Linked DNA regions of Homo sapiens. The protein of the gene in region 7 interacts with the protein of the main gene of each other region in a biochemical or structural test. Each region holds a gene or a part of one and is shown on either strand. Other genes may lie near its edges. The genes, in order: JHY, POLR2M, SLAIN2, SPATS2, SCEL, SNURF and DAPK1.

Evidence for each region.
Region 1: the proteins of DAPK1 (region 7) and JHY form a complex in vitro, tested with the Homo sapiens proteins (one large-scale study listed by BioGRID and IntAct).
Region 2: the proteins of DAPK1 (region 7) and POLR2M form a complex in vitro, tested with the Homo sapiens proteins (one large-scale study listed by BioGRID and IntAct).
Region 3: the proteins of DAPK1 (region 7) and SLAIN2 form a complex in vitro, tested with the Homo sapiens proteins (one large-scale study listed by BioGRID and IntAct).
Region 4: the proteins of DAPK1 (region 7) and SPATS2 form a complex in vitro, tested with the Homo sapiens proteins (one large-scale study listed by BioGRID and IntAct).
Region 5: the proteins of DAPK1 (region 7) and SCEL form a complex in vitro, tested with the Homo sapiens proteins (one large-scale study listed by BioGRID and IntAct).
Region 6: the proteins of DAPK1 (region 7) and SNURF form a complex in vitro, tested with the Homo sapiens proteins (one large-scale study listed by BioGRID and IntAct).

What each region holds. Positions count from the first base shown.
Region 1 is NC_000011.10:122,902,936-122,907,199, forward strand, and holds part of JHY (jhy protein homolog), read left to right. Parts: intron 1-989; coding exon 990-1,509; intron 1,510-2,236; coding exon of another isoform or gene 2,237-2,296; exon of another isoform or gene 2,297-2,975; intron 2,976-4,264. UniProt on the Homo sapiens protein: Required for the normal development of cilia in brain ependymal cells lining the ventricular surfaces.
Region 2 is NC_000015.10:57,709,546-57,713,809, reverse strand, and holds part of POLR2M (protein GRINL1A), read right to left. Parts: intron 1,827-4,264; coding exon 1,622-1,826; intron 1-1,621. Other genes in the region: GCOM1 (GRINL1A combined protein), read right to left, coding at 1,622-1,826.
Region 3 is NC_000004.12:48,382,811-48,387,074, reverse strand, and holds part of SLAIN2 (SLAIN motif-containing protein 2), read right to left. Parts: coding exon 4,148-4,264; intron 3,429-4,147; coding exon 3,291-3,428; intron 1-3,290.
Region 4 is NC_000012.12:49,489,097-49,493,360, reverse strand, and holds part of SPATS2 (spermatogenesis-associated serine-rich protein 2), read right to left. Parts: intron 3,897-4,264; coding exon 3,788-3,896; intron 2,680-3,787; coding exon 2,630-2,679; intron 1-2,629.
Region 5 is NC_000013.11:77,537,942-77,542,205, reverse strand, and holds part of SCEL (sciellin), read right to left. Parts: intron 1-4,264. UniProt on the Homo sapiens protein: May function in the assembly or regulation of proteins in the cornified envelope. The LIM domain may be involved in homotypic or heterotypic associations and may function to localize sciellin to the cornified envelope.
Region 6 is NC_000015.10:24,957,223-24,961,486, reverse strand, and holds part of SNURF (SNURF protein), read right to left. Parts: intron 2,750-4,264; exon of another isoform or gene 2,619-2,749; intron 2,163-2,618; exon of another isoform or gene 2,022-2,162; intron 1-2,021.
Region 7 is NC_000009.12:87,503,838-87,508,101, reverse strand, and holds part of DAPK1 (death-associated protein kinase 1), read right to left. Parts: intron 1-4,264. UniProt on the Homo sapiens protein: Calcium/calmodulin-dependent serine/threonine kinase involved in multiple cellular signaling pathways that trigger cell survival, apoptosis, and autophagy.

The DNA.
Region 1 (4,264 bases), on a different chromosome or scaffold from region 7:
AACATAGTTGTTGATTATCATTATCAAGGATTATATGCTGTATATAATTGTGTGTGCTATACTTTTATAGGACTGGCAGTGCAGTAGGTTTGTTTATACCAGCAGCACCACAAACATATGAGCAACACATTGTACTATGATATTCCAAGGGCTACAGCGTCACTAGGTGACAGGAATTTTTCAGCTCCATTACAATATTGTAGGACCTCAGTCGTATATGTGGCTTGTCCTTGACCAGAACATTGTTAGTCAGTGTATGAAATGTATTACCAGCCAAAGTGTGAAACATAGTTTTATCTTCACCAGCTGAAATACTGAGTCATTGTTGGTGTACGTAAGTAATCGCATTCATTGAACCACAGTGATTATTTGTTTAACATTATAGATATCTGTTTTTCAGTTGTCTTCTGACACTTAGAAATTAATTGTCCCCCATTTTTATTCCATATTTCAATGAACTTGGATAATTAAGGCCTTTCGCCCTTATGTGTAGTGTGTGGGTCTAATTTGGGCCTGGGATCTGTCTTTATGTTTATTAATCAATTAATTTATTTATTTTAAGAGACAAGGTCTCACGCTGTCTCCCAGGCTGGAGTGCAGTGTCGTGATTATAGCTCACTGTAGCCTCTAACTCCTTAGCTCAAGCAATCCTCCCACCTCAGCCTCCTGAGTAGCTGGGACTACAGGTACGACACCATACCCAGCTAATTTTTTAAAAAAATTTGTTGTAAAGATGGAGTCTCGCTGTGTTGCCCAGGCTGGTTTTGAACTCCTTGCTTCAAGCGATCCTCCTGCCTCGGCTTCCCAAAGTGTTGGGATTACAGGTATGAGCCACTGCACGCTGCTGGGATTTGTGTTTAGCATACAGATAATAAAAGGAAAACTATAGGAGAAAGACTGAGATTGATTTCAAATAAAATGTTCAACTGACTATAATGAGTGAATTTATTTCAACTAAGGACTTGGCATTTCTCTTCTGCTTTGGGCAGGCAACAACCAATAGAAGACAAATATTCAGACCTCCGCTATGACCCGAACTGGAAGAGTAAGAAGGAGGAAGGGCAGCTGCTGTCTGTGGAAGCGTTGCCGGAGTCCACGGACAGCTCTTTAGAAAATCTGCCTTTGGCTCCCCTCTACCCTTCCCAGGAGACGTCAATGGAACTCTCCGGGGGAAAAGGCGAGCAGAAAGAGAGTCCACAGAGTGCAGCTTCTTTACTTGGTAGTGAATTTTTAAGCCCAAACTATGAGCATGGTGCCCGTCGCAGCAAGCCGTTTTCAGAGCTGAGCGACAGTGACCTGGAGGAGAAGTCGAGCAGCCTTTCTCCGTACGTGAAGAGCTCAAGTTCACATAACGAGGTTTTCCTGCCGGGATCACGTGGCCCTCGGCGAAGGAAATCCAAACAACATTTTGTGGAAAAAAACAAGCTCACTTTGGGATTACCCACCCCGAAAACGGACTCTTATCTTCAACTTCACAATAAAAAAAGAGGGGAATCTCATCCAGAACAGGTACGTAGTGGCTACTTTAAAATGTCTTCTGAAACATTAAACCAGAATTTGCGTTTGTTTGCAGTGTCTAGATATCGCTTCCTTTAAGATGACGATGTCATAGCAGCCACCTAGCTGGGTAAAACAAACGCTTCCATAGGCTATCCTGTATGTTTATGTTTATTCCATAAATTCTTATGACCAAAATAAAAGCCACCAATGGTTTACAGTGTAATTGCTACAAGTCGATTATTGCTATAAGTCAATTATTATATCCAAAATTGCTATAATTGCTATAAGTAATTATAAGTCCATTGTTATGTCAGTTATTATATCCGAAATTCTCCATTCAAAGAAATCTGGAACTTTTTAAAACTGTGTTTTCCAAATGATAAAATATAGAACTTAAGCATTTGATTCCCTGTGTTGATTTCCTTTGTTACCACCATAGCAGAGGTTTTCAACCCTGTTAAATGCCCCAGCACATTGTGGGTGACATGGAACATGCCCCAGCTCACATACAGAAGCGATTCTCAACTCAGATTCTGTATACATATTGGGCGGTCGGGGAGTGGGTAGGGTACAACATAAGGTGGGTTTTTTTTTTCAATCTTCAGATGTTTCTATAAACCCCATTGAAAATCACATCATTTGTTATTGTCCTGTGTAAATGATATGATATGATTAAACATTAGTCTCTTTATTTGTAAAATTGGGACAGTAATAAATGCCTTCTCTTCCTCATCAGGTCATTTTGAGAGTAAATTCTCTCCCACGTGATGGATTCAAAACCTTTTGGAGCCAGTAAACTTAGTTCCATTTCACAGGTGCACATAAAGACCTTCCTGCCCACCTCCTATGGACATGTCCAGGGATACAGGACAAGAGTGGGGTTAGAATGGTAGAGTCCACCACTCTTACTGGAAAGAGCTTGAGATTTATCACCTGCTAATGTGAGGTCATTTTCAAATACAAAGGAGAGGTTATTATGTTAAATGTGGTTGCCCTTAGACCTATTCCAAATCCCAACTGGTATTTTTTTTTAACATATTCTAACCTGTTCTAACCTCTAAGCATTTTCTAATGGAACAAAATAGATGAGGTGGATGAACATTTGTGGCTTTTCTTCAGAGACTCCCTTTTTTGTCTTAAAGAATTACGTCTGGTGGCACGTTGGCTCATGCCTGTAATCCCAGCACTTTGGGAGGTCGAGGTGGGAGGATCACTTGAGGCCACGAGTTCAAGACCAGCCTGGCCAACATGGTGAAACCCATCTATACCAAAAATACAAAAATTAGCCGGGTGTGGTGATGCACACCTGTAATCCCAGCTACTCGGGAGGCTGAGGCACAAGAATCGCTTGAACACGGGAGGCAGAGGTTGCAGTGAGCCGAGATGGCGCCACTACACTCCAGCCTGGGTTATAGAGTGAGACTCTGTCTCAAAATAAATAAATAAAAATAAAAAAAGAATGATGTCTGGTGAAATTTGGGCCTAAAAATATTTTAATTTAAAAATAAAAATAAATAAAATTCAAAAAAAGAATTATGTCACATCTTTGCCACTGTAACTAATAATTAAATGAAATAGGTGTAGTATATATAGCTGAAGTATTTAAAAAACTAGGTGAATTCAAGCAGTTTTTAGTATTTTTACCCAATTTTAGATGTTAGTATACTCTTGTTCCATAAAACTTACATGAAATTTTGAATTTTGCTTGATTGCTCATTTAAAAATGAAAATAAATTCAACAGTCCAATATCTTTGAAAAAAAATTTCTTTTGAGTCAGGGTCTGGCCTTTCACCCAAGCTGGAATGCAATCGCACGATCATAGCTCACTATAACCTCGACCTCCTGGGCTCAAGCAATCCTCCTGCCTCAGCCTCGGCGAGTAGCTGGGAACACAGGCATGCACCACCACATCTAGCTAAATTTGTTTTTAAATGTCTTTATAGAGATGGGGGTCTCATCATGTTGCCCAGGCTGACCTCAGACTCCTGGGCTCAAATGATCCTTCTACCTTGGCTCCCAAAGTGTTGGGATTACAGGCATGAGTCACCATGCCCAGCCTGAAAAATGTTTATAGCCAGTAATTTATCTCAAACTAGGACAATATTTTTCATTATTAAAAAGTGTTCTCAAAAGAAGCTGATCCGGAAGGAGAACATTTGGGGGTTTTCTTCATTCAGAAACTCTCTTTTTAGTCTGAGGTCAAAAGAAATAGTTTTATTTCCAATAATAAAAGGGAAAAATATTTATTATGAACTCTTTAATTGTTGATTTATTAATCGCTATTTTTGTTAGTAGTTATAAGTTAATTTACTAAACAATTTTAGGGTGTATTGATTGTCAGTGATTCCACAGCTGAATTTTCTTTTCTTTGTGCCATGGAGGAAACTTTCTTTAAGCTCTTATATTACTCTCTGAAGGGGCCATTGACTTTTCCCACCACTTTCTCCAAGTTCAAATATCTAAAGGCTAATTGTATTTAAAATTGTTCCTTTACCATTTTCCAATATATATGTACTTCTTCTTGCTCCTATTATTTTTTTAAGAGATGACTCCTATTATTTTTTTGAGACGGGATCTTGCTATGTTGCTGGAGTGTAGTTGCTATGCAGGATTCGATCATCACACACTGCAGCCTTGAACTCCTGGGCTCAAGTGATCCTCTTGCCTTAGACACCTGAGTGACTGGGACTATAGGTGTGCATCACTGACCTGGCTTCCTATTACTTTAAAAAGAATAGAGATGAGTTTGACCTAACAGTGACA
Region 2 (4,264 bases), on a different chromosome or scaffold from region 7:
GCTGTCTAGATTTCTACAACTGACAGGACCTTCTTCCCTAATTACAATCATGACTTCCAGACTTGGGAATTACATTTCAATGGCAAAATGAAAATCAAGAAATTAATACTAAAAAGCTGACTATTCCTCTCCAAATAAAGTCCTACAGCAACTAGTATCCAATAAAAAGTCCAAGTAAATTTCAGACACTGGCAATGTACTTAAAAACTCCCAAGGACTTTACCACCAACTGATGGTAGGTGGCAATGTCATTCCTAATTCAGTTCTTCCCTTTTCTCATGCTTTCTTGAACTTCTTGATGTCCTCCTCTTCAAGCCATGAATATGGGTCAGTAAAAGTGGGAGCTATTACCACTACAACTTCTCTGCTAAAAAAAAACAATTTAAAGATGAAGGGTTTAATTCAACCTAAAAATATCTTAGGACAGGCATTTAAGAGCTCAGAGACAGTAAACACTTCCTCAATGCTACAGCCATAACTAGACAGTCATTTTAATGCACTGAAAGAAAAATGGTTTTTTTCAAAAAGAGCACCTTGATAATGCCAATCCATGCCAAGGCTTTTATGAAAAGCCAAAGCAGATTAACAGCCTGTTTTGTTGTTTTTTTTTTTGAGACAGGGTCTCACTCTGTCACCCAGGCTATACAGAGTGCAGTGGTGTGACTGCGGCTCACTGCAGCCTCGACCTCCTGAGCTCAAGCAATCCTCCTACCTCAGCCCCACAGGTAGCTGGAACCACAGTTGCATGCCCCAATGCCCGGCTAATTTTTTGGTAAAGATGGAGTCTAGCTATGTTGCCCACGCTGGTCTCGAACTCCTGAACAGTCTGGTGTTATACTAGTTGGTGCACTAGTACCTGACTAAAATCTAGCTAATCAATACCTAGGAAGTGAGACAGGATACTGTTCTCCTGGAGGCTAAAATTATTACTAAATACTTCTAAACTTTTCTGTTCCCCTATGGTCCTTCACACTTATTTTCTCCCATCCCATTATTCTGTATACAAACTCTCAACATACATGTTTGAAGTTCAATGCAAAACACATGGAAACAAAGTGCTATGCAAAATTGATTAAGCTGCCAAAAGCAGGAGATATTTCTCTCTTCACATGGGCCTGCAGATTATGCTCTAAAGCAGTGTCTCACTGTCTGCTGGCTACACAACATTATCCTCCCACTCCTTCTATGCCCTCCCCTGTACTGCAGAAGATGGAAGCCTGGGAACTACATTCTCCTCATTCTCTAACAAGGGGTCTGGGTTTGAGTCCGCCACTGAGAAGCTGTCACATGAGTTTTACAAGGTGAAAGGGAGAGATGCGATGCTACTACTATCCTAACAGGAACAGGCAGGTAAATGAGCTTTAAGACATGAAATTCTACAAGTCTCCCCACATCTCCAGGCAAATCACCACTTTAATGTTGAAGGTAGCTGTGATCATCTCTAGCTACTTCCTGCAGTTCTAGCAACTTTGTGACTCTCTGAAAACTAGTGGCATAGATCTGAGCTCATGGAAGCACCTAATCCCCTCTATTCCATTCCTTCCTCCTTGAACCTGGAGTAAATTCTAGCTTATGTAAGCAGCACCCAACAAACAGACAAGAAAAAAAATACTCTAAATACCTCATAATTCTGTTTCTGCTGTTTCTGAAGTGCCAAGGATTCTTCTATGGAGAGCAGCTGCGTGGGCATATGGTGAAGTGGTAGAAGCCGAGCTGCTGTGATGTCATCAAGATGCTGCTTATCCCTGCGCCGCCGCTCTTCTGAGGAAATAGGAGACCCACTCTTCTGGCAATGACTAGATGAATCATTTTGTCGAAAAGGTAACCTGATGAAAGGAAAACTTGTGTTATACAATCAGATTATTTTATTTGTAGACACATTTAAAACATTCACACAAATGGCCTTTACCTTAGCAATTAATTCTCCTCCAAAGGTAACAGTAAGTAATTTACCAGTATTCATTGCTCTAACAAATAGGGGTGTGTTTGTGTGCATACAGGCTCTTTGCCTTTTCCTTCCTTATTCAAACCTTGTATTTCATCTGGAGTTTTTTTTTTTTTTTTCATTTATTCAAAGAACATTTGCAAAAGGGCTTATTGCCCAGTAGAAAGAAATACACATGTAAAGTTTCAGTGCAATACAATACCAGAGATACTGTGATAGATATCTCAACAAGATACATTGGAACATAAGGAAATGGCCAGTTCTAGTGGGAGACAGGGAGGCTAAGAAAAGTTTCAAAAAAGCTTTGAACAGTCTTGGAATAATAACTGCTTACCCATGTAAATAAGGAGAGAAGTGCATCCCAGCAAGGGGAGTGAGAGAAAGTACAGAAGGTAGACAGACTCAGCTTTTCTGGCTACACAGAAAAGACAGCGAGAAAGAGGGCTGGGAAGTAGCCTAGGCCCAGACTGCAATGAAGAGTTCTCCGTAACAAGTTCGGATTTCCATCTTACAAATTTCACTCTGGCAGCAGTGGAGATAGACTGGTAGTTAAGACTAGAGGTAGAAGGGGCCACAATTACAGCCCGAGAGAGATGAGAGTCTTCACTTCGACAGAAGATGAAGAACAATTATAGAGATGAAGATCAAAGAAATAAGTAGGTCTTCATGGCTAGCAGATATGGAGATGAGAAAAATCGAAGATACCTTAGGGGAAGAAAACCGAGAAGGTGGTGGCACTATTAGGGAATATGGAAATCACCTTGGAAAGAAACTGCAGTTCCACTTTGTACATCATTAAGCTGAGGTACCTGGGAACACCCAAGTGATCAAGTTTCATGGTTAATTGGCTATGCAAACCTAAAGTTCTGGGAAGATCTGGGATAGAGGTGCACAGGGGTCAGCCTCCAGCATCCAGGTGATACATGAAGCCAGAAGAGTATGCAGAAGGAAGAGCAGAAAGGACCCAAAGGACACTACCTGACCCCACCTTCCAACCTCCAAGCCACCTCTCACACGGAACCCTCTCAATCCCTACCTGTCTATGGCCTAAGGACTCCTCAAAGCCCTGCCTTTCCTGTTCTCCTCTAACTTATACAGGAGGCTCCCTGTCTCTTAAACTTCCTGAATTCTTGGTAGCCCTCTTCACTATTCCCTTACCTCTCTCCCACTCCCAGCTAAATGACCATAATACAGAACTGGGATTAATGTATTCTTTGTTTTATTTATTGACTAGATGATGGTTCTAGTTTTCTAAAATGTCATCCTGGAAGTGAAGAAAGATACCCCACTGTACACAAGAGAGTACTTGATCACGTTAATGTAGTATAATCCTGATTTTCTATACAGCAGAAATAAAATGTTTTGAGGTTAAAATGAATGCTGGGGTAGAATTAAAGTCTAACAAAAAAGAAGCATGTTTTAGATACTTTTCACTAGAGGTTTTCTGTTTTTCAAAGAAAGGTAGTAGTGATTTAACTTTGATGTTACATACTTGTAAATACAATATAGGAAGAAGGTACCAGTTACCTGAGTTGAATGTTACATTTGCTGCAAGTAAATAGCAATTATTTTCAAAAAGATTTTACTTTTCCTGAAATTTCAGAAACAAATTTATGGCAAGGAACTGATAAGCAGAGTTTTTGCCTATCCTGCCTGAATCTATTTTCACAGTTTTTCAAACCTCTTCTCAGCTTCCTTCCCCCTGAAACTGTTATTATTATGTAGCTTAACTCTTTTCCAAGTGTGTAAACCTTGGGTCCTCATGTAGCTCTTAAACTCCTTGAAGAACATGGTATTGTATTACATTACACATGTATACATTACAGCCATGTTTTTAAACTTGAGATTTAACATCAAAAAAGGCAAAGGAGTTTTAAGAATCTTGACTTAATTGTGTCCCCACAACACCTGCTGCTTGCTTACATACAGTGAGCATGCAAATAATTTCTGCTGGAAAGCCCATCAGCTCCTGCAATTGCTTTACCCTTAGTTCACAGACTAATCAAAGAGAGTACACTTTGATAGTACACTAATCAAAGCTGTACACTAAAAAATGGTTCTGAAAAAAAGAAGTCATAATAAATTCTCTCCAACTCTGTGTTTATTATGAAATACTGGCTAAGCATCCTAAAATTTAACACTCCCCCATGTGCTTTAAAAGACCTTGTCGATTATTTGGTTTCAAAACTAAATATTTTTCAACATGAATCTTCTACTCCGGCCAGGCTGGTCTCAGTGTTGCCACAACATGTTATTTCCTAACTACAAGTAGTTCTCATACAAAGCCCACGGAACTTAGAGCATTCTCCTGACTTATTT
Region 3 (4,264 bases), on a different chromosome or scaffold from region 7:
TGCTGTTTGGACATGTATCATGTAAACTTTTGAGAAATCCAGAATGTAACAGTTCAAACTAAATATGAAAGCATCTTTGAAAGCCAAGTACAAACATTGTTTTGGATCATCTGTTCACATGCTGTAAAAGCATGGCTTATAATATACATAAGTTTTATTATTTAACCTTCTTAATGATTTACTATTTTTCTTTCCTGTTACATTAACATTGTGGGTGGTTTTTTTTGCATCAGCCAAATGTGTCAGGGGAAAAAAGAAGCCAGAAACAGGATATTCTCAAGTGTCAAATTAATCTGTATCACTCACGATTTCAAAGATAAAGCTCAAATTCTATCCTTCCTTTCAAGTGTTTTGTGAATTCCTGTTTTCTATACTATTTATTAGTACTACAGTGAGTATTATAATGGCACTCTCAGTTACAGAGTTCACAATAAGACTTGGAGTACTAAGTTTAAAATGTAATTTGCTATAAAAACAGGTTTTAGCATATATCTAGCTGAATAAATGTGGTTTACAAATCTCTGGGTACCAATTTTCTACAGTGCTTTAAACGTTAGAATTTTAAATCTTAGGAAAAATGGAAATTATATTTCTGGATAAGTTTTATATCATGGTCTAAACCATAGATGTGACAACTCTCACTAGGTGAATTTGGACTCTCACCTATTGAGATCCAGTGCTCAAGATGAATCAACATGGGTTTAAATTCTAACTTGCCGCTTATAAGCTGTATAATCAGAGATAGGTTATTTGGCCATTCAAAGCTTCAATTTCTAATCTGTAAAATGTGGTAATAATCGTACCTCCTTCATAGAATTGTTCTAAGGATTAAATAAGATTATGCATCTAAATACAGTATAATATAAATTTGTTATATAAGTAATATCATATGCACCTTGTAAATAAGGAAAATTTGTCAATATATCACAGAAGTCATTTTGATTCAAATATAGTTTTTTCGTAGCTTTTTTTTTTTTTTTTTTTCTTTCAATAGACTGGAGTGCAGCAGCATGATCATGGCTCACAGCAGCTTCAAACTCCTGGGCTCAAGCAATCCTCCCACCTCAGCCTCTTAAGTAGCTGGGACTATAGGCATGTGACCATCATGCCTGGGTAATTAAAAAAAAAAAAACATTTTTTTAGAGACGAGGTCTTGTGTTGCTCAGGCTGGTCTCAAACTCCTGCTAGCCTGTTGATTTTTGAGCCACTAAGTAACAACAGCTTAACATGAAGTATATGAAGTCAGCTAAACACAACAGGGCCAAGGAAAAGTGTGAAGAAATTAAATTAGCTGGGCATGGTGGTGCACGCCTGTGGTCCCAGCTACGCAGGAGGATCACTTGAGCCCAGGAAGGTGAGGCCGCAGTGAGCCATGATTGTGCCACTGCACTCCAGCCTGGTGACAGAGTGAAACCCTGACTCAATCAAAAAAAAAAGAAAAAAAAAGATGAAAATGAAAAAAGGGTTAAATATCTTCAAATTTTTAACTGCTTAATAAACAAGTTATAAGTGAACAGTCAACAAACTCGTTTGTATCACTTCTTCATAGCCTTGAGAAAATGAAAGAATATAACACAGCTACCACTTCAACCACTGATAGTAATATGCCACAAGGATCTGAGACAATATGCATCCATTGTGTACCTACAAGGATCTGAGTGAATAAGCATCCCTTGTGTCCCTACAAGGACCCCAGTGAATATGCACCCTTTGTGTCTCAGAGCTCATATACGGGACTGATGTGAGCTGTGAAACACATGGGATGAATACTGAGCGTTCATAAGATCATAAAAATAACTGTAATCATTTATTTAAAACCGTTTTGACTACACGCTCAAATCTATCCTAGCTAAAAAGTAATTTTTTGAAATTCCTTTAAAATCAACTTGTACATTAATATACACAATGCCCATTTACTCCAACATCACTACTTCTTGGCTCAGTTTGGCTATTTTGTCCTAGATGATCTTACTGTATGATTCTCTCTGATCTTCGTCTATGCTGCATATGTTTCCTTAATTCAACAGTCTCAACCTTTCCTTTCCATCACATTACCTTCAAATCTTTCTTTAAAAATGAAGTTCTATATCTCCTGGAGTATTTAATAAAGATTTAACATGAATTTAACTGTGCTAGTATCATTATTGTTTTTATTAATGCTTTCTAAGAAAGTTGCTTGGGTTTTCAGTGGTCTGTTCCAGGACTATTCCCTCCACTCCTCATCATCCTATCATTTTTATTGTGTAATACTGCAGAATGTGAGGTTTTTAAGGAGTGCATATTTTGTGCTATAGTAGAAATGCCTGTATTGATTTAACATACTACTTGCCACAAAATAAAAACTCAAGTATCTATTACAAATAATAGTTGAATACAAATACTGTCACATTCATGGGTTAGTAACCACCCAATGACCAAAACTTATTAAAAATTATAATCTACATGTGTTCTTTCTACTATACTTCTAAAATTCACCTTCTCTGTTTAAGAGTTTAGCTTTAACTCTAAGAATTTGTTTTCTGAAAGATAATTTAAAGAGACAAGTCCTGATCAATTCTTAAAAAGTGATGGTTTCTGGCAATTTATCTCAAATTTTAATCTATAAGTAGGATTAGGACTATGAATTAATTTGGCATACATATTGATTCAATATTGTATTTTTTCATTAAAATAGCCTTAACAAACACAGAAAATCAAATCAAAACCAGAAATCTTATCTCAACAGATGCAGAAATAAAATGAGATCATCCAAGAGTTCTCCTGGTATACTTTTGTTTTGGAAAGAAAAGAACTTCAACAATTCAACTTTGATAACAGATTTAATATATTGCAGGTTTGAACAATGGATTATTTTGAGTATGATTCTAAAATTATGTAATAATCAAACTTTTAGGTATTTTTAAAGTGGAGGTTATTAAAGAAAATTTACGTACTAAGGGACATATATTTTTGGATGCTCTACTGGTTTTTATTTCTAATTCTAGTATCTATAAGCAAAAGCTACACCTACTTTTTTAATAGTTACATTTTGCTTATTTTAAAATTCTGGAGAGACCAGAGTTTTGTATAGACAGATGTACTGGCAGAATCAAGTATCCTACATAGAAAATTTTAAATTGTAATATAACTTTGATTATCATCCAGCAACTAATAAACACTAAATTTTACTATAGCTATGGTTTAAAACGGTTTTTCAGCATAAAAAACGGTTTTTCAGCATAAAACAAATATCTAAAATTTTCACTTCTCTTTAAATAACTGATACATGAAAGCATAAGAAGGATACTTACTGGCTGAAGCCTGAGGTTGCATACGAGGTATTCCTCCGTTTGGCACTTGAAAATTTGAGTCACTTCTGCTGCTTTTCACTGAGTCAACTTGTGTATTAGATGTTCGGGACAGGTTTGGAAGACTGCGTCTTAGTTTTTCTGCAACAGAATTTTAATTTTAAAAAAATCATATTCTTTCAGATGGAGAAAATTAAAATATTAACTAGCATTCAAAAATCAAATTGTTTATCAAACATTCTGTTTATTTTAGATGAGAAAATACAAAGGACTTGTCTTATTAAAAAAAACAAACAACTCGATCTAGGATCTGTTAAGTGGGTAGAATAAGAGAACACTTAAAGATAACCACAAATTTTATATTTAAAGCAAAATCTAAATACAGGTAACTTCATAAAACAATAAAGCAAAAACAACATAACCAAGTAAAATGAAATTCACTTTCTCTTTTATTTTTGTAATGATTCACTATTAATAAAATAGTAAACCTGACTACACTCTTGATTTACTTATCTGAAATACAAAAACTTAGCAAAAATTGTATTACTTTCATAGTGAAATATAAAGGACACTTTTTCTCTTTTTTTAATCTAGAAACTTTTTTTTTTTTTTTTTTTTTGAAAACAGGATCCTGCTCTGTTGCCCAGACTGGAGTGTAATGGTGTGATCACAGCTCACTGTAGCTTTGAACTCCTGGGCTCAACCAATCCTCCAGCCTCAGCCTCTCAAGTCACTAGGACTATAGATGTGCACCACCATGCCCAGCTAATTTTGAAAATTTTTTTCCTAGAGACGGGGTCTTGCTATGTTACACAGGCTAGCAGAAACTGTCTAATTATTAGTAAAATCTGCTATTTTACCTTCATTTTTAACATTGCTTGTCTGTAAATCTGTGGGATGGCCTTGAAGTGAAAGGCGAGGTTGCTGTAAGCGGCTAATCATAGGCTGTGGGGACACTCTACTATATTCTATTCCCC
Region 4 (4,264 bases), on a different chromosome or scaffold from region 7:
TGAGCCATGTGAGTATATTGCATAGGCAAATAGTAAAGTTAAAATAAACAAACAAAAGTCCTTTACCTTTTGTTTTGTCAAACTCGTAGCTCCACTGGCAACACCTAATTCTATTCCTAAGGCTAGGCTGATAATAACTGAATCAATTTTTCCCCAAGTCCTTTCTGTGACCCTCTCCAGCAGAAACATGATTGAACTCTAGATAAACTTTTTGCCTTAACAGCTCTCATCTTTCTTTCTTTCTTTTTTTTTTTTTTTTTTAAAGACGGAGTTTCGCTCTTGTTGCCCAGGCTGGAGTGCAATGGTGCAATCTCGGCTCACTGCAACCTCCACCTCCCAGGTTCAAGCAATTCTCCTGACTTGGCCTCCCGAGTAGCTGGGATTACAGGCATGTGCCACCACACCCAGCTAATTTTTTTGTATTTTTAGTAGAGATAGGGTTTCACCATGTTGGCCAGGCTGGTCTCAATCCCCTGACCTCCAGTGATCCACCTGCCTCGACCTCCCAAAATGCTGGAATTACAGGCATGAACCACCGTGCCCGGCCTCATCTTTCTTTTTCTTACTTTCCCCCATGTGAACTGGCTAAGTTTTCATATCATTGGGTCATGTATATCATAACTATCCCACTCAGAGTCACATCCTATTGGACTAATCCCAACAGTTAAGTGGACTGGACTGGATTTGTGCATTTGGGACTGCTAAACTGAAGTCATATTTCTTTCTCCAAATTTTAAGGAATGTCTGTGTCTCTAACACACATCCTCTTCCAGGTCCATGCACATCTTATATCACTAGTAACTTATAATCCTGGGCTAATAAATTAAGAAACTGGTGTTAGCTGGGTGCAGTGGCTCATGCCTGTAATTCCAGCACTTTGGGAGGCCAAGGTGCGCAGATCACTTGGGGTCAGGCGTTCGACACCAGCCTAGCCAACATGGTGAAACCCTGTCTCTACTAAAAAATACAAATATTAGCCAGGCGCAGTGGCACGCACCTGTAGTCCCGCCCTACGTAGGAGGCTGAGGCATGAGAATTACTTGAACCCAGGAGGCGGAGGCTGCAGTGAGCCGAGATCGCGCCACGGCACTCCAGCCTGGGCGACAGAGCAAAACTCCATCTCAAAAAGAAAAAAAAAAAAGAAAAAAGAAAAAAAAGAAACTGGTGTTTTCCAGGACACTCACAGTTATCTATGTAACAGGTTGAAAGCAGCAGGAAGAAGTTAAACAAATATTCAAAACTACAGGTATGAAGAGCTTCAGAAGAATCTGTGTAGTATTAGGTAACCCTTGGAAAAAATTCTCAAGCGTCACTGAGGCCAAGCCTGGTTTTTGTTCAAGACCTGACAGGACTCCTAAAAAGTGATGTAAGAGTCATGATGAAAGCATTTCAGAACTCCAGCACTGACTTAATAAAGAAAAGAACACCCCAAACAGATTTCACAGAGATACTTGATTAAAATCCATACTTCAAGCATTTCCTAAAGGGGTTACCTTTACAGTGCAGAGCTGTGGGAAGAATTTTGAGACCAGCTGGTATCCTTTGGGAAAAGCATCTGATTTTAAGTAAATAAGGAGAAAGGAACGAGAACTAATATGTTAGGCGTTGTATTATGTATTTGTATTTATTAGAACTATTTTTCTATTTTAGAGATGAGCAAACTAAGGCACAAATGTTAAGCAATATCAGTCACAATGCCAGTAGATAGTGGAACAGGGTAGGAATCCAGTTCTGACTGATCCCATAGCCTGAGTGCTTTCTACCTCTCAAAGTGGAACATCAGACCCCTCTGCAAGGCACCTAATAGCCTTTTTTTTGAGATCAGGTTTCATCATGTTGCCCAGACTTGAACTCCTGGGCGCAAGTGATCCTCCCACCTCAGCCTCCCAAAGTGCTGGGATTACAGGCATGAGTCACCGTGCCTGGCCAGCACCTAACAGCTTTATGTCAAAGCTCATTAATATCAGGACTACAACCCAGTTGCCCGACCAAAAATCTGAACTGTTTTAACTGATTTATGGTATGAATATGGTTGAAAACCACTCAATTAGATCGCTTTCTCTTGCTTTCCTTGATTTGCTGTCTTTTTCACCCGTCTAATAACTGCACCATGGCAAAGTCATTCTGTTTCCTGCCTTAAATCACACGGAGAGGACTGTGTGGTACTCTGTGAGACACAGCTATGTTTCAAGGTCGAAGAATTTTTTTTTTTTTTTTGAGATGGAGTCTCACTCTGTCACCCAGGCTGGAATGCAGTGGCCCAATCTCGGCTCACTGCAACCTCTGCCTCTTGGGTTCAAGTTATTCTCCTGCCTCACCCTCCTGAGTAACTGGGATTACAGGCACGTGCCACCACACCTGGCTAATTTTTTCTATTTTTTAGTAGAGACGGGACTTCACCATGTTGGCCGGGCTAGTCTTGAACCACTGACCTCAAGTGATCCACCTGCCTTGGCCTCCTAAAGTGCTGGGATTACAGGTGTGAGCCCCTGCACCTGGCCAAAGATGTTTTTTAACCAGGTAAACAGAAGATATGTATGTGAACCTTTTCTTTCAAATATTTTTGCAGAGCCTAAATTTTTAAAAATAATATACACATCATCATGCTTTTAAATGTAATTCATTTTACCTTTTTCTTGCCTGTTACTGTCCATTCTTTGAGTACTTCACTGGCACTACCTGTAAGAGAAACCAATTACAGATTTTGTCTCCTACCACACACACAGTAGTCAAGCAGGAGTCAGTGTCCTCCCATTTTGTAATTGCTGGAGAATTTACAAAGCTCCTAACAGAAAAGTTAAAGTTAAGGATCAGGTCTAAAGTAATGTAATGAGATAATCATGCCATGCTTCCCTTTTGGAATACCTGCCTACTTAGACCCCTCCTCTCCGAGTAATTTCCTCAGTAAGTTCTTCTAAGAAGAGACTAATGTAGCTGGGCCATTTTGAAGATTCTCTTATCCATACATCTTAGACCAAATACAAAGGGGATGGCACACTGGTTTTAGCCAAGTGTGCCATCCTTTCCCCTCCAGTTACACACCCACCTTGGCTATGTTGTTTTGGAGACAGCTGCACATTACCCTAGACCAAAACACTAACATTATTTTTTAAAAAGATGAAGATAAAGAAAAACTTTACAACATTCAAACTTGTGCATCCTATGTTGGCAGATTCAGGAAAATAAAAACAGGGAGACCTAACCTCATGTTGCTATTCAAAGACGCAATAGCTTCAGATAGTTTTTCTCCAACAGGTTACATGGAAGGAAGGTTCATAAAACACTTCTCAATGTTATAAATCTGAAGGGTTGACTAAGCCTGCCATTCTTCTACGTATTAGATAAGGAAATTCAAACCCACACATTTGAGTCACTTGCCACAGCCAAACTAACGATATTAGAATCCGGAAGACAATACTGAGTCCTTGAATTTGCCATCTGTTGGTGAGCCACTGAATCACTGCTTTGTTATTAAGAGTCTCTTAAATTCTTATTCAACCCAAGTCCAATCAAGTCCCTTATACCACTGGCCACATGATTTCCTCTTAAATACCATTAGAGAACATTTAGCGTGAAACAATGGAGTTTTCTCAGCTTATCTCTTATTATAGACACCACATAGCTTATTTCAGCTGAAAGAGGTATCGTCAAATGTCATGGTATGTTATGTTTTCATGGGGTCTGCTCTATCATCTATGAATCACTGGATTGCTGAATGTTATAAAAGTCTGAAGCAAATTCTATTTGAGCAAATATAAATTTATTTTTAAAATTAAGTCAGGATTACCTTCCATGAATGCTTGTACTGTTTTGTCCACACAGTTATCAAAGTGCTGCAAAACCAGGATAATTTCATTGTTGCTCTTATTAGGAACTATTGCACGTACCGCATTTATCTGGAAAAGATGACAGGGTCATTTAATTCTAACATTAGTAGGTCACTAGGCAGCTGAGGCCTATACAGAGAATAATGAAAAGAGTGATATTTCATTTTTAACAATATGTATCACTCTTTAGTGTCAGTGACAGTACATACAAGCATCTCACTGGGAATGATTAATAGATGAGTGATAACAGCATGTGAAAAATTAATTTCAAAACTTAGAAATGCAGAACATTGCTAGAAATAGAAGTTATATGCTAGATTTCATATAAAGAAAAGGTGGTTTAATTTCGGTATCAGGTATTAATGTGGCATCAATATTCCCTCATTTTTAGCATACTGTAAAGAAAGGTGGAAAGGTAAATGAACTAGCAACAATAA
Region 5 (4,264 bases), on a different chromosome or scaffold from region 7:
TGGTCTCTAACTCCTGACCTCGTGATCCGCCTGCCTCGGCCTGATTCTGGTTTTTAATACACAACCCTCACCAGCTCTTTTTCTTACAGCCCATCTTTTCTGCAGAATGATAACAGCAAGCTTTAACATGAATAGTGGCCTATAATTATTTCATTTTACAAAAAACACTGGTCTAATATTCATTAATAAAAAAGCTATCCAATAAAAGTTATCTATCACCTGAGCCCCATCAGGGGCTATTTTCAGTTCTAGCTGAAAATACAAGTTAAATGAGTAAAAACTCAAATTTTGACCACAGACTATGAGCCAAAACCCTGTTAGTTATCTTAAATACTTTACTGTATTTCATATTCACAAAAGCTCTGTCATGTAGCTGTTCTGTATCCCAATTTTACACAACATAAATCTTTCTCACTATATTTAGAACATATGTGGAAATACAAGAAAGCATATATAAAATGTGGAAAATACAAGAAAGCATAAAGAAAGGAAAAAAAAATCAGACACCTTTAATCAATCACTGTAATTTTCTTCCAGGGTTTTTCTTTGCCCATTTAGAGCCTACTGATATGCATTTTCCAATGCCATTTAAGAATATTTAAATATTTATTTTGCAGCTACAAAATATCTCATTTTATTTATCAATGTAACATCATTCCTCTGTTGTTTCTAAAAAACCATACAAAAGTCTTTCACCAAGTATCTGATTATTTTCTTTGAATGAATCCGAGAAGTGAAATTACTTGCCAAGATGTATAATTTCTAAAATATTCTTGATCCCTATTGTCGAGTTTCTTTCCGTAAATCTTATAGTAGTTTATCATCCACCAGCAACATATGAGTGTTCACTCATTTGCCAGCATTTAGAATTATCATTCATTAATCTTTTTAATAATATAATAGGTGAAAGTAGAATCATTTTGTTTTACTCGCATATTTTTCTTCACTTTACAGGGCATTTTCTTTCTTATTTTATAAATTATCCATTGACAATTATTATATATTTCTTACTGATTTCTCATTTTCTTTATATGTCAGGAACATTCATCTTTACTAGTTTTTCATTTAGCTTCTAATTATAAATTTTGTATCAGAAGCTTTTGATTTTGCATTCCCTATTTTTCCCTTTATAATTTCTTCCACTTTCACTCTTTAAAAGCCATCTTTGTAGACCATCCATCAATCTTCTTTCTGACCTTGAAATCCAAGCAATCGTCAAGTCCTATAATTCAACATCTCTTGTGTATCTTTCTATTTGCAAGACACCAATTCAAACTACCATAATCTCCTGACTATTCCAACGGCTTCCCAGCTACATTCTCAATCTCCAGACTTCCTCACTTAATCCACTCTCCTCCTCACTGGTGCCAAAGTAGTCATCACCTACTTAAAGTCGTTCAAGGGTGTTCCCTTTCTGTCAGGATAAAATCGAACTGATAACAAGGCTGACAAGGCCATACCCTCCAGCCTCATTTCCCCCAACTCCCCACTTCCCACTCACACTCTGGCTTCAGCCACAGCAACTCCTTCCAGTGCCTGGGGCTCCATCCTTTTCATCACCTGTGAGCTATTGCTTATTCTATCTATGCCTGAAACACTCTTCTTCCTGAACTTCCCTCAACCCCTCATTTTCCTTCAGGAAAGACTTCCATTCACCTTCCAGATCACACATTCTATATCCTCCAGGAATCACTCTGTGATACCATCGCCACTTGCCCCACTCCTTCCTCCCCAGGCTGAGTTATGAGCCCTACTATGTGTTCAAATAGCAAAGAGTTTCCATAACATCACCTAAGACTGTGTGTATGGCTGAATAATCTTCCCCCACCCCCAACCCACAAGTATACACACATACTCACACCCGCACACATTCACACATTGTACATCTTAAGAGCAGTGGCCAAGCCCATCTTCTCCACAGCTGATTTTCAAAACTTATCACAGTACCTGGTACATAATCAGTTCTAGAGGAATATTTGTTGAACAAACATGAGGTTAACTAAATATTTATTTTTCTTTTAATTTTTACAATATATTTTGTTGTTTTATGTAATCTCTCTAATCCATGTGGATTTACTTTGGTAATGGGAGAATAAATCCCTTTCTCGTTGATATATGATACGTCCTTTGTCACACTTTAAATTCTTACATATTCTTAAATGTGCTTTGTGGCTATCCGTTTTCCTCAAGAAAACTGTCTTTAGTTTCTTACAATAAAAACAAGCTACTTTTATTATTGTGTTTTTCTGATACATACATTTTTAATATCTAGTAGCACAGCACCCTTCATTAACTTCCTTTTTAGAAATTCTATCAGCTATTCTCATTTATTCCTTTCTTTCAGATAACTTTAAAATTATTGTCTAAGTTTCAGCCAGGCGCAGTGGCTCACGCCTGTAATCCCAGCACTTTGGGAGGCAGAGGCGGGCAGACCACGTGATCAGGAGATCGAGACCATCCTGGCTAACACTGTGAAACCTCATCTCTACTAAAAATACAAAAAATCAGCTGGGCGTGGTGGTGGGCGCCTGTAGTCCCAGCTATTCGGGAGGCTGAGGCAGAATGATGTGAACCCGGGAGGCGGAGCTTGCAGTGAGCCGAGATAGAGCCACTGCAGTCCAGCCTGGGTGAAAGAGCGAGACTCTGTCTCAAAAAAAAAAAAAATTATTTTCTAAGTTTCCAAGATAAATATTCTATTGGAACTTTTGACTAAAATTGCATAGATTCTATAAAAAGAGTTTGGGAAGAACTGACATTTAAGGTCCGCTTTCACCTTTATGTCTTACTATAAAATGTTGTTATTTTTTAAATCTAGATTTTAAATTTTTCTTGTAGAGATTTTTTCTAGATTTTTATATTTTTGTGCTATTGTGAGTCATATTTTATACATATATGTCCCATTATGTAATATGCTATGTATATTATAAAATATGTATATAATATATAATTACATAATTTTATATGTCTATTAATTATTCATCAAGAATCCTAATTTTTCTTTTTATCTGCTGGTGCTGTGAGTTAGGCATACTCATACATGTCACCGTTTGTCCACATGGAATCATGGTTCAAATTCAAGTCTATCTAGATTTCAGCTCACTGCATGCATTTGTATATAAATTTCTTTTAAACTTTTACACACAGCATCTCTAATGACAAAAGAGGGAACCCTGGGGAGAACTGGGGAGAGGGCAGGGCAATAGGGATAGTTTTCTCCAAAGCTTTTTAACTAAAATTAGCTCTCCATACAGACATGTGCCATGCTTATTTCATAATTTTATTGCATTTTCTAGAACATTGACACAGTCTCCTGGGATGTATATATCTCAGTTTGGAAAATATGGCTTATAGTTCACTGTCTTTCCCCAGGAGGCTTCATATGAAGGATACGTAATCACATTTTAGAGTCAGGGAAACTTGGGTCTACAGACAAAGAATAAATTATTCAGATTTTTAGAGCTATCAAGTATACTATTACAAGGAGGATTCAGGATGATCAGTTCTTGTATCTAGAAGTAAACCAGTTGTCATTGAATAGGTAGCTATAAAATTCACTGTTCCAATTAAGTATCACAATAAAAGGATGACTCATGTCCTTAAAAAATTTAGTAATCGACATGAAATGAAAGTCTAGTACGTGTAGCTGTCATTTGGCAAAGCATCCATGTGAGGAAGAGCTTCTCCCGAGCTTCAAAATCACAAGTTCATGGAAAAAAATCACAGTTTACCATTTGTACAATGGTAAGCTGGAAACACTTAAGGAATATAACTGATAAAGACTTTTGATTAAGGCCGGGCGCATTGGCTATGCCTGTAATCCCAGCACTTTGGGAGACCAAGGCGGGTACATCACTTGAGGTCAGGAGTTCAAGACCAGCCTGGCCAACATGGTGAAACCCCGTCTATACTAAAAATAGAAAAATTAGTCGGGTGTGGTGGTGCACACGTGTACTCCCAGCTACTCAGGAAGCTGAGGCAGGAGAATCGCTGGAACATGGGAGGCGGAGGCTGCAGTAACCCGAGATTGTGCCATCGCACTCCAGACTGGGGAAAAGAGCGAGACTCCATTTAAAAAAAAAAAAAAAAAAAAGACTTTTGATTCAGAAGTGAGCTTTGAACAACTCCAGCTATGTATGCAGCAATTAATACCTAAAATCTTTATTTCAAAGTACCCAGCCAAAGAAAATGGAAAATGATCAACAAATGGTCTAGAAGCAGGACAATGACAGAAAGCGAAGCCATATGGAACCAATAAAGATTTCCC
Region 6 (4,264 bases), on a different chromosome or scaffold from region 7:
AAATCCCACACCAGACTAGCCATATTAGGGACTGCAGAAACCACCTATGAACCTTTAAAGATGATAAATCAGAAAGGTCAGCAGGACCTTTCACTAAAGTAACACAAGTAATATCTCAAAAGCAAAATTCAAAGATACATGCCAAAAGCTATTAATAATTCTCTGAACCCTAGATGTTTTTAAGTCATGTTAGACTTTTAGATTGGTAAAATAGCTTACCAATAACGCACAGCTGTTTTATTCTTTCAAGAGTTTAAATGTTCTAATCAAGCCATACACACATATTTGATTTCTAAATGGTAAAATTTTATACACTGATAATGTTTATTACTTTTGATTACACAATGGTCTATTAAATATAACACCTGAATTACAAGCAGTATAAAAAATAAAGTGGACTTCATCAAAAAATAAAGTTCCGAAAACACTAAAGAAAGTGAAAGGATAACCAGAATAGGAAAAAATATTTGCTTAACATACAGCTAAGTTTCTAGTATCCAAAACAAACAAAAAGAAAATCCAAACAATGAAAAAAAAGAAGGTAGGGAGAGGCAAAGAAACTTTTTCAGGTGACAGACACATTTATGCCACTAATTTTGATAAGAATGATTTCAAAGGCATGTACTTATCTCTTAGCATATCAACTTTTAACATTAACTATCTACAGCTTTTGTATGTCACTCACACCTCAAAAAAGTATTTTTTCAAGTTTGGTATCCAGAATATGTAAGGAACTCTCACAACTCAACAATAAAAGGGCAAATTCTATTGCTACGATGGGTAAAACACTTGAATAGACAGTCCTCCAAACACATACAAGTGGCTAATCTATATGAAATGATGCTGAACATTAGTCACTAAAAAATGCAAATCAAAATCCCAATGAGGCAGGGCGCAATGGTTCATGGAAGGCTGAGGCCAGCGATCACTTGAGCTCAGGAGACCAGCTTGGGCAACATCTATACAAAAAAATACAAAAATTAGCTGGGTGTGGTGGTGCATGCCTGTGGTACCAGCTACTCAGGAGGCTAAGGTGAGAGGGCGCTTGAGCCTAGGAGGCAGAGGTTGCAGTGACCTGAGATCATGCCACTGGCACACCAGCCTGGGTGACAGAGCCAGACCCTGCCTCAAAATGAAAAAACCCCCACTGAAATGCCACCATCTGACACCACAATATTTGTAAAGGATGTGGGGAAACTGCTGGTGGAAACATAAAGTGTTATATATAGACTTTGCCAACTTCCTAAAAATGTTAATCATGAAAGTAACATATGACACTAACTCTACTGCTAGATGAAGTAATATTACAAGACCCAAACTCAGCCTCCAAAGTAGCTGGGATTACAGGCATGCACCACCACACCCAGCTAATTTTTGTATTTATAGTAGAGACAGGGTTTCACCATGTTGGCCAGGCTGATGTCGAGCTCCTGCCCTCAGGTGATCTACCCACCTCGGCCTCCCAAAGTGCTGGGATTACAGGCATGAGCCACCATGCCCAGACAGTTCATGTTCTTTCTATTATACCTGCAGCCTTCCCAGCTACCACTACTCTCATACTTCCAAAAAGACAAAATTTCAAGAACCTGGCATATACGAGGGCTAAGTAAAACCTTGTGAAACTAATTCTTTGTATTAAACGTATTATACGTGTTCCTAGTAGCATTATTCATAATAGCCAAAGAGTGGAAACAACTCAAATGTCCATCAACTTACGAATGAAGAAAATATGATATATCCAAACGAATGTCTTTCAGCCATAAAAAGGAATTTAGTACTGATCAGTGCTACATTATGGTGGGCACACAAATACAGCTAATAATGTAGTACCTTAATATAATACAATTAAAGAAACTATCAACTAAACCATGATTAATCTAATAGTGTACAACTGCAAACACTGTCTTACCAAAAAACAAAAAGAACCCATTCGGCAGTTGCTCAATATGAAAGGTCTGAGGTCAACTGAGGAAATAGCCATCAAACCAAAATATTCTATTATTTCAACTTTCTGAATTTACCTTTTTTTAAATGTAGAGACGGGGTCTCAATACCCAAGCTTGAACTCCCAGGCTCCAGTGATCCTTCTGCCTTGGCCTCCAAAAGTGCTGGGACTATAGACATGAGCCACCGCACCTGGCTTAAATCTACTTATTTTTAATCTACATATAAAATGTCATCTATAAGATTTTGAAAACACTACTTTATTGAATGTTCTAGATACACACACACATGCATTTATCTAACTGCATCCCCAACACAGAAACCAACATTTTATGAAACTGAGGACATCATGAAAAAATCATCATATAGAAAGGGTGTTAAATGTTTGCCCTCAGATCACTTACACTGAAAGTAATAATCCGGAAATATATTGAAAAGCAAAAAGCAATGGAATCCCAATTTTATTACGGCCTAAATTTTCCATAAAATTTAACTAAGATCTCAAGAATAAAAATAAACAAAGTTGGCCAGGTATAGCGGCTCATGGCTGCAATGCCAGCACTTTGGGAGGCCTAGGCAGGGGCACTGCTTGAGTCCAGGAGTTCGAGACCAGTCTGGGCAACATAAGGAGACCCCTCTCTACAAAAAAATAAAAAGTTAGCTGGGCACAGTACCTCAAGCCTGTACTAACAGGCACTTGGGAGGCTGAGGCAGGAGTCTAGATTGATCCAGGAGTTTGAGGTTACAGGGAGCTATAACTGCATCACTGCACTCCAACCTGGGCAACATAGCCAGACCCTGTCTCCTAAAAACAAAAAAATAAGGTTAATGATAGGCTGCTAATCTGTACCCCATGAATATAAGAAACCTCATTGCCTCCAAAACAAATCTGAGGAGAATTAACAAAAAGAGAATTTGGGCCAGCCACAGTGGCCAGAGAGAGACTGAGGAGGGAGAGGATATAGCTTGAGTCTAGCAGTTCGAGTTCAGCCTGGACAACATAGGGAGACCCTGGTCTATTTAAAAAAAAAAAAAAAAAAAAAAAAAAAAAAAAAACTTTGAGCCAGCTAGCATCCAGAAATGGAGAGAGGCTACCTTAAGTAGTAACAATTCTCACTCAAGCTTTCTGGCCCTGGGCCACAAAAAAAAAAAAAAAGGAGACAGGACCAGTGACAGGTCTAAATAAGATTTTTAAAACTTCATTGTCCAAGTAATTGAGGGCAGTACTCACAACCTGCTTAAATGATTCTTCCTAAAAAATAGCTAAACAGAGGGCGCTGATAAACAAAGGAGGTTATCTTGGCATCCTTGACACCTTATAAACAAAATTTTTTGTAAAACAAAGATGTTTATTAGGAAAAGGAACAGGGTAAGGGAAACATAAAGATACAGAGTAACTATAAATGTGGAAAACATTTCGGCAATGACACACTGGTCAGATAGAATAGTGAAATCAAGATAAGGCAAGGTCTGTGAATAAATCCAAATCAGTTAGTACCCTGCCTTAGACAACAACATAAGGGTCTCTCAACCAAGCTTCCTTCCTCTGCATCACAGGAAGGGCTGCCACTCCCTGCCTCCAAAAAGCCCTAGCACAGAGCCAATTCACTGAGTAGGACACAGACCTTGAAACTTCAAGAGGCCTTTCCAAAGGGATCTGCCATATTAGGATCCCGGGCCTGAATGCAAGACTACAAAATGGCGGATCAGACTAAATACTCAGCTTGCAAATAGCCAAATGACCAGAAGTTAAACCAAGAAATATATGTATGTGAACTGCTATCTTCATGCAAGCAGAAAAAAAAGGGTAAATTATAAATATCATATAAAATCCCAGACTCCTGCTATTTTTAAAACTACCCAAAAATAGATTATTCCAGAACAAGGCTTTTCGGGCTTCGTAGATTTAACTTTTCTGTTAATTACAACTCAGTGCAACCAGACATACCAGTTATGATAGAGGGAAAATGTAAATACAGAAAAGGCAAGCACTGAAAATCCTGCAAAGGAAGACAAAATCCTTAGAATAAAATGATTTTTTAAAAAAGTACTGGAATATAAAAATGCAGTTATTCATTAACCTTTCTCACCAAATTTTTGTAGTAGCTCCAACTTCAAAAATGATCATTAATTTAAAAATCCAAAAAAAGACAGTAACTGATCCAAAGCACAACCCCACCCCAATAAGATTGTCTCCACTTTTCTCTTTTATTCTCTTTGAGCACAAAACTTGCAGCTTTCAACTCCCAGAAGATGAAGAGGTCCAGTGTTTGAAACACCTTTCAACCTTAGTCGGGAAGAGCCATCACGATGTCCTCTC
Region 7 (4,264 bases):
GGCAGAGGTTGCAGCGAGCCAAGAGCATGCCACTGCACTCTAGTCTGGGTGACAGAGCGACACTCCGTCTCCAAAAAAAGGGAAAAGTTTATACAGTTTCAAAAGTAAAAGCAATGAACTAAGACATAACTATTCAACAATGAAAAGTAGTTCATTTTTGTAGGTGAAAATTTATAATATCAACTGCACTTAAAATATTTGCCAGCCAGCCTCATTCATCACATATTTCCTAAATAAGAATAATCAGGCAGTTTTGACAGAAAAATAAAATGTGTCCCAAAAGAAGTCCGTACCTCGAGCCAAATTTCCCAGCCAAAACCCATCAGGCTTATGAATATAAGTGCCATCAATATAAACTTTTCACACTTCAGAGATCGGCAGTTTACAAGCATTCATTTGCTCAAACATTATGTTCTTCGTCCAAAGTTGTATGTGTTTATAAAGGGAAAAAAAAAATCAACAACATTCTCCCAACCTCCTTCCCTCCCCTCCCCACCACTCTGGCATCTCTAATTATATGTTAGGTTACTGAATAAAATTTTTCAAGCTCACAACTGAAACATCGAAAGGTAGTACATAAGGTAAAAGCCCCGTGAACACCAGATGCGGTGGCTCATGCCTGTAATCCCAACACTTTGGGAGGCTGAGGCGAGCAGATCACCTGAGGTCAGGAGTTCAAGACCAGCCAGACTAACATGGAGAAATCCTCTAAAAATACAAAATTAGCCAGGCGTGGTGGTGCATGCCTGTAATCCCAGCTACTTGGGAGGCTGAGGCAGGAGAATCGCTTGAACCCAGGAGGCGGAGGTTGCAGTGAGCCGAGATAGCGCCATTGCATTCCAGCCAGGGCAACAAGAGCGAAATTCCGTCTCAAAAAAAAGGCCCCATGATCACTTCTCAGAAGTAAGCAACATTATACTTCAATGACCACAGTGTGATCCATATGCCACACCAGCTGTCAATGTCACCTAAAGACCAAAGTGACAAACCCGCGTCACTATTGGACCACGCTTGTCAGGTATCTCCAGAGATTAGTTACTATCACATGATTGTTTTGTTTTGTTTTGGATTGGGACAGAAGATAAAACACAACTATTTTAGGTTTTAGATTTTTTATTTGTAAAAACCCACCCAGCACATTAACTCTAGAGCTGGGATACAACTGTACTTACCTAAGAAAGATTTAATAGTTAGAGAAAGTTAGTTTAAATCCATTTTAGTTAGATGATGTGGAAAATCGGAGTGTCAACTTCTTTTTTCTTCCACCTTCTTCTAACTGCACCTTTAAAAAAATTCGTTTATAATAGAATGTACCCAAAGTCATACACTGAATTTATTATAATTGTACTGTCATATAACCTCTTTCAAGGCCGAGAAAGGATGCATTCCATTTGTATAATTTACCCCAACAAACCAGAACAAAACAATTAAATATTATCTTCCACATAAAGTCTCAAACAATCACACACCAACTCTAAGCTAGCCAGACTAGTTGTTGCGTAAGGAAATGAGAAACTGTTGGTCAGTGGCAGGTAGGTGCACGGGTCAGAGACAAGACTCTTAGACATTACATAACTCAAAAGTTAAATAACAATGAAAGTGTTTTTGGAGTTTTCTAAAAAGGTAAACCATTAACTTGGGACTTGAATAAAACTACGCCACATGTTGACATCATTCCAAACTGCAAGGCTGAAGCCATTTGGAAAAGGAAAGAAGGTCCCAGTGTGTCGTTAAGGCCTGCGAAAGTTCTGAGCTCAAAGGGCAGACCCTGTTGCCTTTGGCTGGGCTTCAAATGAAAACCTTCCATGAAGGGTCTACTATTTATCCCTAACCATTTTCTCCATGCAGATGCTGAAATAAATTGGCGCCAAATGGCTGCCTACTTCACCTCTCTTAAATATCAACTTCATCTGGCTTTCAAAGATGGAAAACTGCCAAATCCTAAATAGCACAGATAATGAAATAGGCCTGGCCCTGGGTTCTGGGTCCATGTCTTGCCACCTTTTAATCAGCTGCCTGGAGAAAGCCACTTGACCTGTCTAAACACAGGTGGATAAAATGTGAAGGGAGGCAATGCTGGTCACTCAGCCTTCTTCCAGGTCAAAGTCCCGGCCAGGCACAGCGAGAGGCTGACGCTTATAATCCCAGCACTTTGGGAGGCCGAGACGGGCGGATCACTTGAGGTCAGGAGTTCAAGACCAGCCTAGCCAACATGGCGAAACCCCACCTCTACTAAAAATAAAAAAATTAGCCAGGTATGGTGATGCATGCCTATAATTCCAGCTATTTGGAGGCTGAGACAGAGAATCACTTGAACTGGGGAGGCAGAGGTTGCAGTGAGCCAAGATCGCCCCACTGCACTCTAGCCTGGGCAACAGAGCAAGACTTCGTCTCCAAAAATGCAAAAGGCCAGGCACAGTGATTCATGCCTGTAATCCCAGCACTTCGGGAGGCCGAGGAGGGTGACTCACGAGGTCAGGAGTTCAAGACCAGCCTGGCCAAGATGGTGAAACCCCGTCTCTACTAAAAATACAAAAAATAAGCCAGGCACGGTGGCAGGCGCCTGTAATCCCAGCTACTTGGGAGGCTGAGGCAGGAGAATCACTTGAACCCAGAGGGCGGAGGTTGCAGTGAGCCGAGATCACGCCACTACACTCTAGCCTGGGCAACAGAGTGAGACTCCGTCTCAAAAAAACAAAACAAAATCAAACAAACAAAAAGACACAAACAAACAAAGTCCCTGAGCTCTCTGGGGTACTCTTCCCCAATGGAAACCACTCCCCTCTTGTCAGAAGAGTGGCTTCCTTTGTCTCATAATCAGAAATAAATTTCTACTAAAATAATATTCACTTAATTTATACAAAATGTTAGGTACTCATGGCAGTTGGCTAGAATGAAGGATGAAAGTTCCTAACACATTTCCCTGCTGAGTCAGGCAATGTGACCTTGACCATGCCACTCCCAGATATCAGATATCCAGCAGCTCAGCCCCTCACCCCTAATCATCTGGAAAGAAGTGGTCTGGATTACAACTCTGCTAGGAGGGAAGAGAACAAGGTGGAAGAGCCAATGTTGCCTCTCCTGATATAACACCTGTATACAACTACAGTCAGCCCTCTGGATCTGTGGGTTCTGCATCCATGGATTCAACCAACCTTGTACCAAAAATATTCAGGAAAAAACTGCATCTGTACTGAACATATACAGACTTTTTTTTCTGGTTATTATTCCCTAAACATTATAATGCTACTATTTAGTTAGCATTTACATTGTACTAAGTATTGTAAGTAATCTAGAGATGATTTAAGATATATGGGAAGATTACATCAGTTATATGCAAATACTATGCCATTTTATATAAGGGACTTCAGCATTTGTGGATTCTGGTGTCCCCAGAGGTCCTGGAACTAATCCGCCATGGATACCGAGGGATGAGTGCACTGGAATTTATCTGGACATCCATCTCTGTAGGTTTCTTATGAGTTTTTCATGGCTTTGCAGAGGCATATACCAATGATATGGGGCCTTCAGTTTCCTCATTGGCCGGGGAGACACAAGCTGAGGGTAAAAGAGCATGGGGGACCAAGAAGTGAGCTTCCATGTTCCCTGGCTTCCCGACCAATAAGCACCTCCACCTACTCTGTTCCTGGCCCCCTTGAACCTAAATTTGATGCCTGCCCTAGTAATCCAGCAACACACTCCCAGTGCCAGCAAGCAAGCATTCAACCAAACTGCCACTTACTAACACCATCATGCTTTCCCTTCACATCCTGGAAAATTATTATTAGACCTTCCTAAAATGTACACACTTTTAAAATCACTAACCGTTGCCTTTAATCTATGTAGCTGAACTTTATCTCTCTTAAAACTTTGGACCCTTTCCTATCAGAGGAAACATCTGAGAGCATTCTGAGTCAAAAATGCTAAGAGGAAAAATGTCACATTCAGCACAGTCCTATAAGGATGCAGAAACCCACCGGTGGCCTGCGGTTCCCATTTCTGAAGAAAAAACATGCCAGAAAGTCTCTCCCCTTCTATGAGCCACACAGGGTTGCCATTATTCATAGGACTGACTCCTGCAATCCACAGTAAACCGGTCTAGAGAAGCACTTGGACTGCCAGGGCTTATGACAATTTCTTACTTCAATTAAAATGCCTATGGATTTTATGCCGAAAGGGGAATGTTTTAAACTTGAATTATTAGCTTCCAATGACCATCCAAACCAATGTAAAATATTTAATGCTCCACTTCATTTGTTTTGTT